2 separate regions of the Homo sapiens genome follow, and region 2 is linked to region 1. The links come from fine-mapping of genetic effects on gene expression. Tissue or cell type: whole blood. Region 1 holds a variant in brackets; the other region holds the start of a gene. All regions are shown on one strand. Distances are between the middles of the regions.

What was found. PIP is the estimated chance that this variant, and not a neighbour inherited with it, causes the effect.
Region 2: A2M-AS1 starts here. The variant in region 1 is fine-mapped to the expression of A2M-AS1 in whole blood (TOPMed, PIP above 0.99).

Annotation. Positions count from the first base shown.
Region 1 is chr12:9,098,489-9,105,032 of GRCh38, forward strand. A2M (alpha-2-macroglobulin) reads right to left here. Exons shown (of 36, transcript NM_000014.6): 11 at 5,751-5,912; 12 at 2,959-3,186; 13 at 2,656-2,719; 14 at 893-1,035; 15 at 119-268. It also overlaps a transcript of KLRG1 not described here. Among named protein-coding and RNA genes, the nearest start is that of A2M, 14 kb to the right of the region's middle. The variant C/T (reference allele first, on the strand shown) is at 2,810.
Region 2 is chr12:9,061,768-9,067,513 of GRCh38, forward strand. It overlaps A2M-AS1 (A2M antisense RNA 1), which reads left to right and starts at 3,410. Exons shown (of 2, transcript NR_137425.1): 1 at 3,410-3,461; 2 at 4,059-5,746. It overlaps LINC00612 (long intergenic non-protein coding RNA 612), which reads right to left and starts at 3,303. Exons shown (of 3, transcript NR_034140.1): 1 at 2,501-3,303. It also overlaps a transcript of KLRG1 not described here. RefSeq lists silencers at 2,639-2,688, 2,749-2,798.

The DNA of each region.
Region 1 (6,544 bases):
AATTAATTCCTAGATAAATATAATTTTAATTGATCTTATCCTACTTATCCAGTCATTTTTCCTTGCTCTGAGCCCCTGGCACGGCCCTTCTTGATTCCTGAGGCTGCCAGGAACTCACCGAGGACGCCGAGAGCTCAGCATCAGGCTTCATGAGCAGCACGCTTTGGTCCACAGCACGGAGGGCGCAGACGGACTGAGGAGCCGCTGTGACTCGCAGGTGGGCGTGTGAGGCTGGGAGACTTTGTGATGGGCTGAAGCTCAAATCCACCTGTGAAATTGGAACAAAAGGTCAGAAAAGCAAATTTCCAGGTTTACCCATGCATTCACTCGCATTTGCAGAGTGTTCCTCATGTACAATGTATAACCACTCTGCTTGACTTCGTGGAGGGTTGGCATTGTGTCAATCCTGAAGCTTTTTGTTCCCTACACTTCTCTTTCATTCTCAAGAATCACTTGAGCCAGTAGAATTATTTCTAATTATTCTTATAAATTACTAGTCATGAAATGCCATTTTTATCTTTGATACACGGCAAGGTGCTCATTAATTGTGGTGGGACATGCATGGGTCTAGGTGCTCTTGCATTTTTCTTTTGGCTCCTTAGTAGTCTTAAAAACTTGCTTACATATTTCCCAACGTTTCATCATAGAAGAAGGGAATAACATACTCTGAACTGTGTAATTGGTAAGAGGCACTGCTAGGAGAAGTTTGAGAGTTTTGTATAAGGAATCAAGTGATTCTGCTTCTTAGTGTGACTCTGCCACTACCTTGCTGAATGTCTCTGGGGAATTTGTTTAACCCTTTTGGCCCTAATGTTCACATGTGTAAAACAAATGATAACAATAGTAACTTCTAGTTTTACATGTTGAAGATTTTATGATCTAAAACACACACCTTGTTGGCCAGACAATTTTCAACATCATATTTTGCAGAATCCCCAATCACGTCCCCGGTAGGTAAAACAGCATAGATGAGCAACCGAGCGACAGGAGCAATGTCTGACTTCACAGGGATTGAGATGGAAAAATGGCCCTTCACTGGGGCACAAAGAGAATGAGAGGAAGCCATCATAGGTTAATGACTATTTCCATTAGTAGATGTAACAGACATAATAAACAGTAGATGTAACAAATGGATGATTACCTCTAAGGACTCTAGCTTTAGAAAAAAACCCTATCAAAGCCCTCTCTCCTCTCATAAATCATATACTCTGTTGATTTTTCACCAGCTTTAAGCTTCAGCTCACCCACCTAATGTTCTGATGCTAGTTAAGGGTATGAAGACATCCAATTCACTACCATTTGATCTAGGCCTCATACTAGAAGAGGGAAATAGAACCTGAAGTTATGAGATGTAAGAGTAAGAGTTCAACACATTGTATTCATGCTACATGCTCTTTAACCTTCTATGAGCCAATATTTGGTTCTTTCTCCATAAGAGGAACACCATGCTCCTTCAGAAGTTATTTTTTGATGCCTATGTAGATTCTTTAGAGGTTGCATTAAGTTTCCTTCAGTCTGCTATGGTGCTTCTGTGTTGCTACAAGAACTAATGAGAGAGTAGATTACTGATACTTTTCTAGCAAGTTATCTTTTAGAGTCTACTAGACTAGGAGCAACCTTCAAAGGTTTATATTATGACATATTTGCTCATGGCAAGAGTCCGCTTCAGTCGGTAGAAGTACCCAATTTAATGCTTCATAAATCATAACTATCTTGAAAGGGAAAAAAGATATTTATAATAATATAAATGACATAAATGACTCAGCACAAGACCTGGTATATACAACATACCTTGAAATCGTACATTTTCTCCACCCCATTCTCTAACACAATTCTCATTTTGAGAAGAGGTTCAAGAATATTTATGGTTTAAAAATCTGGAATAAGCATAGATTATACACAACAATATTTTATGTATTTTATTTTTCCCCCTTTGTTCTTATTTATTTATTTATTTATTTATTTACTTTTATAGAGATGGGGTCTCACTATGTTGACCAGGCTGGTCTCAAACTCCTGACCTCAAGAGATCCTCCCATCCCGTTCTCCCAAAGTACTGGGATTACAGGCGTAAGCCATCATAGCTGGCCCACACCAATATTTTAAATAACGCAAAGAAAATAGGCTGAAAAAAAAGACAACACATATTTGATAAAGGGTGAGAAAAAAACCATTATTGTTTTCCCTCCCTCAACTTTCTTTTAATTAATATTAGATGGAAATGGTCTCTCGTTACTTGAAAGTATTCCTGATATTCCCAGCTCAGGAATGGAAAACCAAACATCATATCTTCTCACTCAGAAGTAGGAGCTAAGCTATTAGGAAGTGGCAGCTAAGCTATTAGGAAGTGGGAGCTAAGTTATGAGGATGCAAAGGCATAAGAATGATACAATGGACTTTGTGGATTCAGGGGGAAGGGTGGAAGGGGGTGAGGGATAAAAGACTGCAAATTGGGTACAATGTATACTGCTCGGGTGATGGGTGCACCAAAATCTCGGAAATCACTACCAAAGAATTTATTCATTCATGTGACCAAACACCACCTGTTCCCCCAAAAACCTATGGAAAAAAAGGGAAAGTATTCTGATACTTCCGTGGTGTAAGGCTGAATGGGTCAGAATGGGGCAGCAATGCAGAGATGATGGAAATACTCACTGTCTTCCTGCTTCACAAGCAGTCCATGAGTCCCAGTTCGGACAATGCCTCCCTTTGCCATTATCTGCAAAAAAGGAAATAAAAAGAAATTAAATGTGCCAGAGAGAACACGCTTCAGTCTCACTTCAATATACTTGTTTTATTGAGTCCCTGC[C/T]GGCAATAATTCACCTCAAGAGAAATCAAACTTTCAAAAGGAACATGGATAAGAAGTTGAAGTAATGACATCTAAAGAGCTTCATGATTACTTGCTCCACAGAGAGCTTTTGTCTACAGTGAAGTCAACGCAGTAACCTCCCTTCTCACCAGATAATAGAAGGAGAGCTTCTTCAGCCCCAGCAGGGTGCCTCCATTCAGAATATAATGTGCCTGGACTGTCTGAGTATGGCCACAGGGTAGTTCATGAGACATGGGCTCAAGGTGGACAAAGCTCTTGCTTGGGGAGAACACAAGATAAGCAGTGTGATGTGCCTCTTCGTGTTCTTCTGACACCCACTGGTAGCCGTAACAGGGACTACGATCCTTGTAATTGACCTAATGAATTAGAAAAATTATATTATTTTTAGATTATACGTCATAAAGATTAATGTTCTCACAAAACTACGTAAGTTTACTGTCCTACCTTAACTAGTAGCTAGAAATCTTTTGTTCCACAATGAAAAGTGGGAGAAGGACCCCTGATTTTGTTTCTCTGCTTCAAATGTAGGCATGCTTTGTGACTTTACACTGCAGAGCCTCCTGGGATTGAGATTTATATTTCTTAAGAGCATAAAAGGAGGCATCCTTTGCTCTGATTAGCTTGCTTGAAATTTCTTTGACTGCTTTACCTGTGCAATTAGAGACACTGGAGCTATGAAACTTCATTGAGGAGAGTAAATAATCTCTAGAAATGGAAGAACTGTGCTTTCAGAAAGCAGCTGCCTCTTTTAGGGTGGATTTTGAATGGGTATTATGAATAAATAAAATATTGTAACCTTAGGGGTCTGAGAAGACATTGGTAGAAAGCATTGGTTTAAGAGCTGAGCTGATGAATTAGCTGAAGTCTACCTCTTCTGGGCTATCTTAGGCTGATTGCTATTATTATTATTTTTTTGAGACAGGGTTTTGCTCTGGCGCCCATGCTGGAGTACAGTGGCACAATCTTGGCTCAGTGCAATCTCTGCCTCTGGGGCTCAAGTGATCCTCCCAGTCAGCCTCCTGAGTTGCTAGGACTACAGGTGCATGCCACCCCACCCAGCTAATTTTTTGTATATTTTGTAGAGACAGGGTTTCACCACGTTGCCTAGGCTCGTCTCGATCTCCTGGCCTCACGCAATCCACCCACCTCAGCCTCCCAAAGTGCTGGGATTACAGGCGTGAGCTACCGTGCCTGGCCTAGGCTGACTATTTTTAATGCTCCCTGCAATCTGGATTCTAATACCTCAGAGGCCCTATTTGGGTTATATTTCCAACTTTTCTTCCTGTAGAAGTTATTCCTTAGCTCCTTTCAGGCTTCCTCTACCTTCATCCCCAGCTCCCAATAGCACTAGTGAATCCTTGAGCAAAACATTTTGTTCATATCTTAATGTATATTTTGGTGACAACACATATATGATCACCCCAAACAGGGAACAGGTAGAAATAATAATTTCATTGTCAAGACTAGCACAGTGCTGGCACGTGGAAAGCATTCAAGACACTTTTTGAAATGAGTAAACATTCAAATTAGAGGGAGGTGCTTTTATGCCATCTATTAAAGCTAAATAAATAAAATGTATTATTTATTTCTCTATAACAAGGTAAAACTCTAAAGAGGCAGGCGTTTTCCATTACCATGATTATGTAATATATATTAAATATGTATTGTATATCCATGTATCTATAGACATGTCTACATCTCTCTTGATGAATAGAGGACTGCATGCTATACCGAATAACTTATATTGGTATGAACAGGTCATCTGGAGAAAATTAGAATAGCAAGACAAAATAAAGTAAGGTAATAATTTTTGGAGTATATATATTTAAAACTAAATGCTAATTATGTTAGAATTGGCTTTTATAGTAAAAGTATCTAACAGTTAAAGGGGGCTTACTAAGTGATTCAACATGTATGATTTCACTTAATCTTCACAACCACCCCAAGAGTCAGGTGTTAGTATTGCAATCATTTTACAGATAAGGAAATGAAGCACAGAGGTTTTAGTTAATTCCTTAAAATAGGGTTGAGCCAGTATTTTTAACCACTTTATCTGATTCAGATTCTGGAATTCACACTTTTCAAAAAAGTTATTATAAACACACACACACACACAACATAAAATTACCATCTTCATTATTCTTTAGTGTACAGTTTGGTAGTATTAAGTATATCTGTTGTGCAACAGATCTCCAGAACTTTTCATCTTGTAAAACTAAACCTGAATACCAATAAGAGGAATTCCCCATTTCTCTCTTTCCCTAGCCCTTGGCAACCACCATCCTGTTTTCTGTTTCTATGACTTTGACTACTTTAGAAACCCCATGTACGTGAATCATACAGTATTGGTCTTTTTGTGACTAGCTTATTTCACTTACCATAACGTCCTCAAGGATCATTCATGCTGTAGCATGTGACAGGATTTTCTTCCCTTCTCAGGCTGCATAATATTCTGTTGTATTTATATACCACATTTTGTTTACCTGTTCATCCCTTGATGGACATTTGGGTAGCCTCGATCTCTCAGCTATTGTGAATAGTGCGGCTATGAACACGGGTGTGCAAATAGCTCTTTGAGACCCCGTTTTCGATTCTTTTGAATATATGTCCAGAAGTAGGATTACTGGATCATTTGGTAATTCTATTTTTTAATTTTTTCAGGAACTACTATACTGTTTTTCATAGTGGCTCCGCCATTTTACGTTCCCAGCAACACTGCTAAAGTCTAACCCGCACTTTTAATCACAATATACTGCCTTCTTTTCATAAACTTTAAAAAAGTTAACCTTCAATCGGTTTCTAATTGCTAGTTTTTTTCTCTCCATAGAACTAGACACAGTTTGGAAATTTTCTCACCCTTAGGTTGCAACCTTGTTTCCAAGGCTACTTCATGTCATTGGTAATTTCTTTCCAAACTTACCCTAACAGTAAGAGAGGTACCCATAACATTGGTGGTGTTGATAGAGAACTGTACAAGGCCATGCTCATCCGTGGTAGCATTGGAGTAATAGTTTGCTTCATTTCCTCTGATGAATATGACTTTATTTGGTATAGGGACGCCTTTCCCATCTACTAGGCGCACCTGAAGATTAAAAGCTGTGGATTAGTTATATTGGTAATAACTAATAGGCACCAAACATATTCATTTATCACATTTTTTAGTGCCTCCTCTATGTTGAACATGGTTCCAGGCACTGAGGACACAGCAGTGAAAAAAAACGAAGTTTCTTCCATCACAGAGCTTACTGTCTAGTGAAAGAGATAGATGCTAAATAAATATATACATAACATACACTAATTTAGTAGTAATCAATCCTAAGAAGAAAAACAGAGCAGTGTGAAGGGATAGAGAGTGATAGGGATAATAACAAGAGTGACCTGAAAAATGTCTTCTAGATATTTTGGAAGTGCTGTGTATTATTATATATAACTCTTAGAGAGTCACAGAGCACTAGAGTAATATGATAATGAAATATTTTAATCTATTAATCTATTAACTAAATTTATTTGTGCCCCAAACACCTATTTTGGAGTGGACCATTAACTTCCTATAGATTAGTGTCTGAAGTCTCATAAGTGCACAAGTAAACAATTGCCAATACATTGTCCTGTGTGTTTCTCCAGTTGCCTTAGACATGGTCTCTGCTTCTCAACCTAGATCTTCAGCCTTTTGGAAGGTAGGCAGATTTTATGACACACTTCCCATGTGAAAAA
Region 2 (5,746 bases), 37 kb before region 1:
TCCACATCGGTGATGACCATTTTTTTAGTAGACAAGGCAAGAACTTAATGAAGAGAATTACTTTACGTTTCTTGAATTTACTACTGAAGAGTTATAGGTAGCTAATAGCTAATATTTTCGTAGCTAGTGTTGGGACACGGAAACCAACCCCCCAAAATATGGTGCTTTGATGGGCTGAACTGTATAGTATATCTGATATATTTATATAGTGTATAAAAAATCACCTGACACAATAGATGGATAATATATCTGATATATTTATATATCGTATAAGAAATCACCTGACACAATAGATATGTAATATATCTGATATATTTATATATTGTATAAAAAATCACCTGACACAATAGATGGATAATATATCTGATATATTTATATATTGTATAAAAAATCACCTGACACAATAGATGGATAATATATCTGATATATTTATATATTGTATAAAAAATCACCTGACACAATAGATGGATAATGTATCTGATATATTTATATATTGTATAAAAAATCACCTGACACAATAGATGGATAATATATCTGATATATTTGTATATTGTATAAAAAATCACCTGACACAATAGATGGATAATATATCTGATATATTTATATATTGTATAAAAAATCACCTGACACAATAGATGGATAATGTATCTGATATATTTATATATTGTATAAAAAATCACCTGACACAATAGATGGATAATATATCTGATATATTTATATATTGTATAAAGAATCACCTGACACAATAGATGGATAATATATCTGATATGTTTATATCAGATATATTATACATTTATATATTATACATATACATTTATATATATACATAATAAATACATTGTATTATACATATATGTATATATTATACATATACATTTATATGTATAATATAGTTGACATATTTATATATTTATATCGGATATATTGTACATTTATAATATATTTATTATATTTTATATTATAGTATATTATCATTTATAATATATTGTTATATGTTATATGATATATATTTATAGCAGACATAGTAAATATCTATTGTGTTAGGTGATTTTTTATACAATATATAAATATATCAGATATATTATACATTTAAACAGTTAAACACCTAAACAGCCCAATTTTATGTGGATCAGTACTACTAACGGCTTAGGGTAAAATGACAGCTACAGCATAACTAGAATGTTAAAGTGGCATGTCTCAGACAACGTGGATGGACATAAAGTATTTGAGAGAATATTGCATAATAGAAAAAAACATTGTAAAGACTAAAATACTAAATAAGACCTTTTTTTCCCGAGCAATAATTTGCCCAGGCTGGTCTCAAACTCTTGGCCTCAAATGATCCTCCTGCCTTGGCCTCCTAAAGCATTGGGATTATAGGCATGAACCACTGCTCCTGGCCAGAATTCTTGATTAAACAATAGGGTCTAAATAAATTTAAACCCCTTTTATTCTTTTTATTCTTACAGGGTAGACTCAAATATTCTATTTCTTTCCAACTTTATATTCTTGTCATAACAACCCAGTATTCTCTGAGGCAAATGGATGCTTATGACCAACTGGCCTGAAATGGGGGAATATAGGGTTAGTGGTGAGTCACATATAAGAAAATGCAAGAGAATAGCAGTGTATCATATTTCAAAATAAAATACAAACTATACATAAAACTGACCCCAACAAGTATCCATTTCATTTCCTGTCGTGTATCTATATGCTTTCCTGGAAAGAATAAACTTCAGTTCACAAAATCAGATGTAGAAGATACATCACTTTTAAAAATTCTACGTAATTTTAATTCCAAGATTCCCATGCCACCAGGCTGGTGGGAAATCCAGTTTAAGTTGTAATTAGGCCTTTTCTCCAGTATTACATATGAATTTGAGTGTAATACCCCAAAACTTGAGAAGGCCATTGTATCTCCAGTCCACTGGGGCAATGAATAGCTTGAGCACCTGATCATTATAATGACCCAGATGTGTATCTTTTTCTTTTACTCTGCGGTGAGTTTTTCTAAGGGAGGAATCCTATTTTGTTTAATTTTGTATTATAGCATGGGATATTGTGCCTGGCAGATAGTAGGCAATCAGTTAGTATTTCAGGAATAAACACTCTTGGTCAGTGATACAGCTAATGATTTGCAACAAGCATATCCTTAAAGTACCTTTTCAGTAACGATTTCCATATGAACAAAGAAAAAAACTAGAACCAAGAGGTAAAATTATAATCCTGTTGTCTTGTTCCCATAGCCATACTCTGATTTCTTTTATGTTCTGTGCCCTGGCTTGATACTTAATTTGACAGCTAATTATAATGTTTATTAAGCTCTGAAATATACTTTCTCCTGGCCTTTTTGTCTGAAGTTGTTTGAGGTGTCACCATGGTTGGAAGTTAAGAGCATGGAAGCTAGACTTCTTGGTCTTGAATTCTAGCTTTGTCACTAACTTAGTAACTTTGGGCAAATTACATGTCTCTGCTTCAATTTCATTTGTTAAGGTAGTACCTATTTCACAAGGCTGATGGTGGCAGCAGTGGGGCGTCCAGAGCTGCCGCTGCCATCACGCCAGCTGCAGCAGGGAGGGGCGGGCAGCGGCGGCGGAGCAGCTGCGGGAGCCGCAGTGGCTGCTGTGGGACATCTGTGCCTCGCGTCCCCTGTGCCTTGAGACCCCAAAGCAGCCGACTGCGCCGCCACCATCCTCGCGTTGCCGGGTGGGGCGACGTGCTCCCCGGCCAGGAGCCTCCACCGCTCCGGACCCTGGCCCTATGTCGCCGCTCTCGCCCGCCGCCGCCGCGGAGTGGGAGTGGGGAGGAGGGGAACAGTCCTTGGAGCCGGCCCCGGGAGTACTCCCGGAGCCTGCCGCCCTGGAAGCCGCCACGATGGACCGGGCTGAGTCGCCCGCCGGAGGGGAAGCAGTGTAGTCGGGCACGGAGGGGCAGGCAGAGAGGGGCCCCAAGGCGGAGCTGGGTCCGGGGCGGAGCGGTGTTCGCACACAAAGCGCTGGGGCTGGACCCAGGGTTCGGGGCCAAGGCGAGAAGTGGGAGCGGGGCCCGCTTTGGGGACCCGGACAGCGGTGTGGCCACCGCGCACACCTCCGACAGCGCCGCATTCCTGGGCCTTGGGAGGAGGCTCTGAGTAGGGCCGCCTGGGGCGCGTCTTCAGGGTCCTCCCGGCACTGGGGTGACCGCCGAGCTAGACGCGCCTGAGGGCTGAGCCCCAGGGCTCGTGATCTGCTCCCGGAGGCGCCCCCCAGGCAGGGCCGTGAGCCGGGCGAGGGAGAGTCCTGGGCTGCCCCTGAGCCCCGGGGCCACGGGAAGAACTTGCAGCGACGTCATCCCTGCCCCGGACACAGTCCCGGGCCCAGGGAGGACCTGGAACATTCCCTTCCTCCCCCCCCCCCCCCCCGCCCCCGCCCATCAGCCCAGCCTGCAAGGAGGCGCCACCGGACCTGCACACTCAGGAGCAGGTGAGCCAGGGACAAGCAGGAGCCCCGCCCCTTCCGAACTGGTGGAGCAGGAGCTCCCAGGGTGCAGCTGCAGCCACCTTGCCGCGGCTGTGGACATTTTCTGTGCTCTCAGAGGCCCAGCAAAGTCCCCTGCCCACTGCAGGCTCCAGGGTGCCTACTCCGGCTGCCTGGCTTCTCTCCACTGTTAGCACCCACTCTGAACTCAGAGCAAGGTCGGGCCGAGCCTGGGTACTGTCACAGCCTGGCCGAGCGTGCACACGCTCAGGACAGTGCTGATACGCCAGCCCCCTGCCGTCTCGGCCCCCTTTGGAACTTGGGCACCAACAAGCGTGGGAGGGAGGCTGAGAGGGGTCTGAAGACAGCTGGACACTGACTTGCAGGCGCTCCTTGGCATGAACAGCCTGGGAGCAGGAGGCAGACAGGTTCCTGGGTGGAAGGGGATGGGTCCCCAGTGAAGTCCCACCCTCAAGCTGGTGAGGGCTTGAAGCCTGCAGACCAGAGAGGTAACTTGTGGTGCTGCTCCCTGGGCCCACTCATGGCTGCCCATGGACCAATCAGCATGCATTTCCTCCCTCTGAGGCTCATAAAATCCCCCAGACTCAGCTAGATTGGAAGAGAGGATGGGAAGACAATGGATGACCTACCTGTGGAGAGAAACTACCCATTCCAGAACCTCCTCTCTGCTGAAAGCTGAACACTCAATGGGAAGACCTGTTTGCAGAGAGGAGCCAGCCACTCCAGGGTCTCCGTTCTGCTAGAAGCTGAACACTCGTTGGGACACCCTTGCTGTGGAAAGGACATCCTTACTGTGGAAATGAGCTACTAACTGCAGGTCTCCTTCCTCTTCATCTTCCTTATCCTTCTGTTCCATTGCTCAGTAATGCTCCTCTTCATCTGTCTCATTCTCCACTTGTCTGCTTGATGCAGGAGCTGAGGAGCTGCACAGCAAGGTTAAAAGAGCTGTAACACAAACAGGGCTGCAACATGCCCCTTGCTCCCCACAGGGAGAGAAGAGCTCTGGCCCTCGGAGAAGCCCAGACCTGGGAGCTCCTTGAGCCCGGGCTGTGACTCCCTCTTTGGGGCCCTGGTTGGCGTCACTGCATTCGCCAGTGCCACTGTTGGAAGCTGCTTGTGATGCGCCTGGTCCAGGGGGAAGCTGTTTGTTGTGTGCCTGGTCCAGCCACCTCATGGAGAGCCTGTGCTGGCACCTGGAGCTGCCCAACCTGGGCAGCAGCTTGTGTGTGTGACTGCACAGTGGCCACGCTTGCTCACACACCCCTAGCACACCCCTCTGCTCCACCCGTCTCAATCTCCCTTGGATCCGGGATCCAGGTTGGTAGCAAGTGCGAGTGGGCAGAAGCAGCCCAGTGGGCCCAGAGCAAAACTCAGGCAAAGGTGCCACTAGACTGGCCAGGAAAGCGACACCCTAAAGATCCCATAATGCTGATATGTTAATTCTATTCTATAAGCACCACACAGAAGTGATAGCTTTTATTTCTTATTTTGTCTAGCCTGGAGACAGAGCTAAGGATTCCTTGAACTGCAAAGTCTTTTCCAGTTCTTAGTTTATACAATCCATACTCACCTTCTGCCTAACTAAGCATTGTCATTTTTGTGCCAAATGAAGAGTAGGACTCCTACGATTGTCCTCAGACTCTCTTGGCTCAATCCTCCTGCTTTAACCTTTCCTACTTCAAAAACTCCTGAAGTTTTGCTTCCCCTTCTATAGAATGGAAATATATGTCGCAATACTTACTGCAAAGAAAATTATATATTTTAAAAATAGACTAAAGAGATGTTGTGAGACATCAGACATCAATCAGATGTTGTGAGAACTGATTTCTGCATCAGAATATCTCCTTGACTTTACAGCTATCCTTTAATCCTGGCTCAAAGTTCCAGAAGAAAGATGATCCAATATAATACTCCTATTTGGACTTTGAGTCATACACATTCCTTCTTCTGAGAAAACGTGCTTCTGCATGAATCCTCCCTTCATTATTTTCAGCTCATCTATTATTGAATCTGAAACCCCAGGTTAACTGACTGATCACTCTCATCAGTGGCAGATTTTGGTGTAACATAGGACACATCACTCCCAATTCAGGTCAAGTCCCAATTATCTTGCCTCTCAATATGACATGTTCAATGTTGTATTTCATTCTACTTCATTTTAATGTAAAAAGTCTTTTCTGGTGAAGTCAGTCTTTTATTTTCTCATAAAAATTCACCCTTTGGGTTTTTCATAGGGTATTCCCATAACCAAACACACTTTACACTTTCCT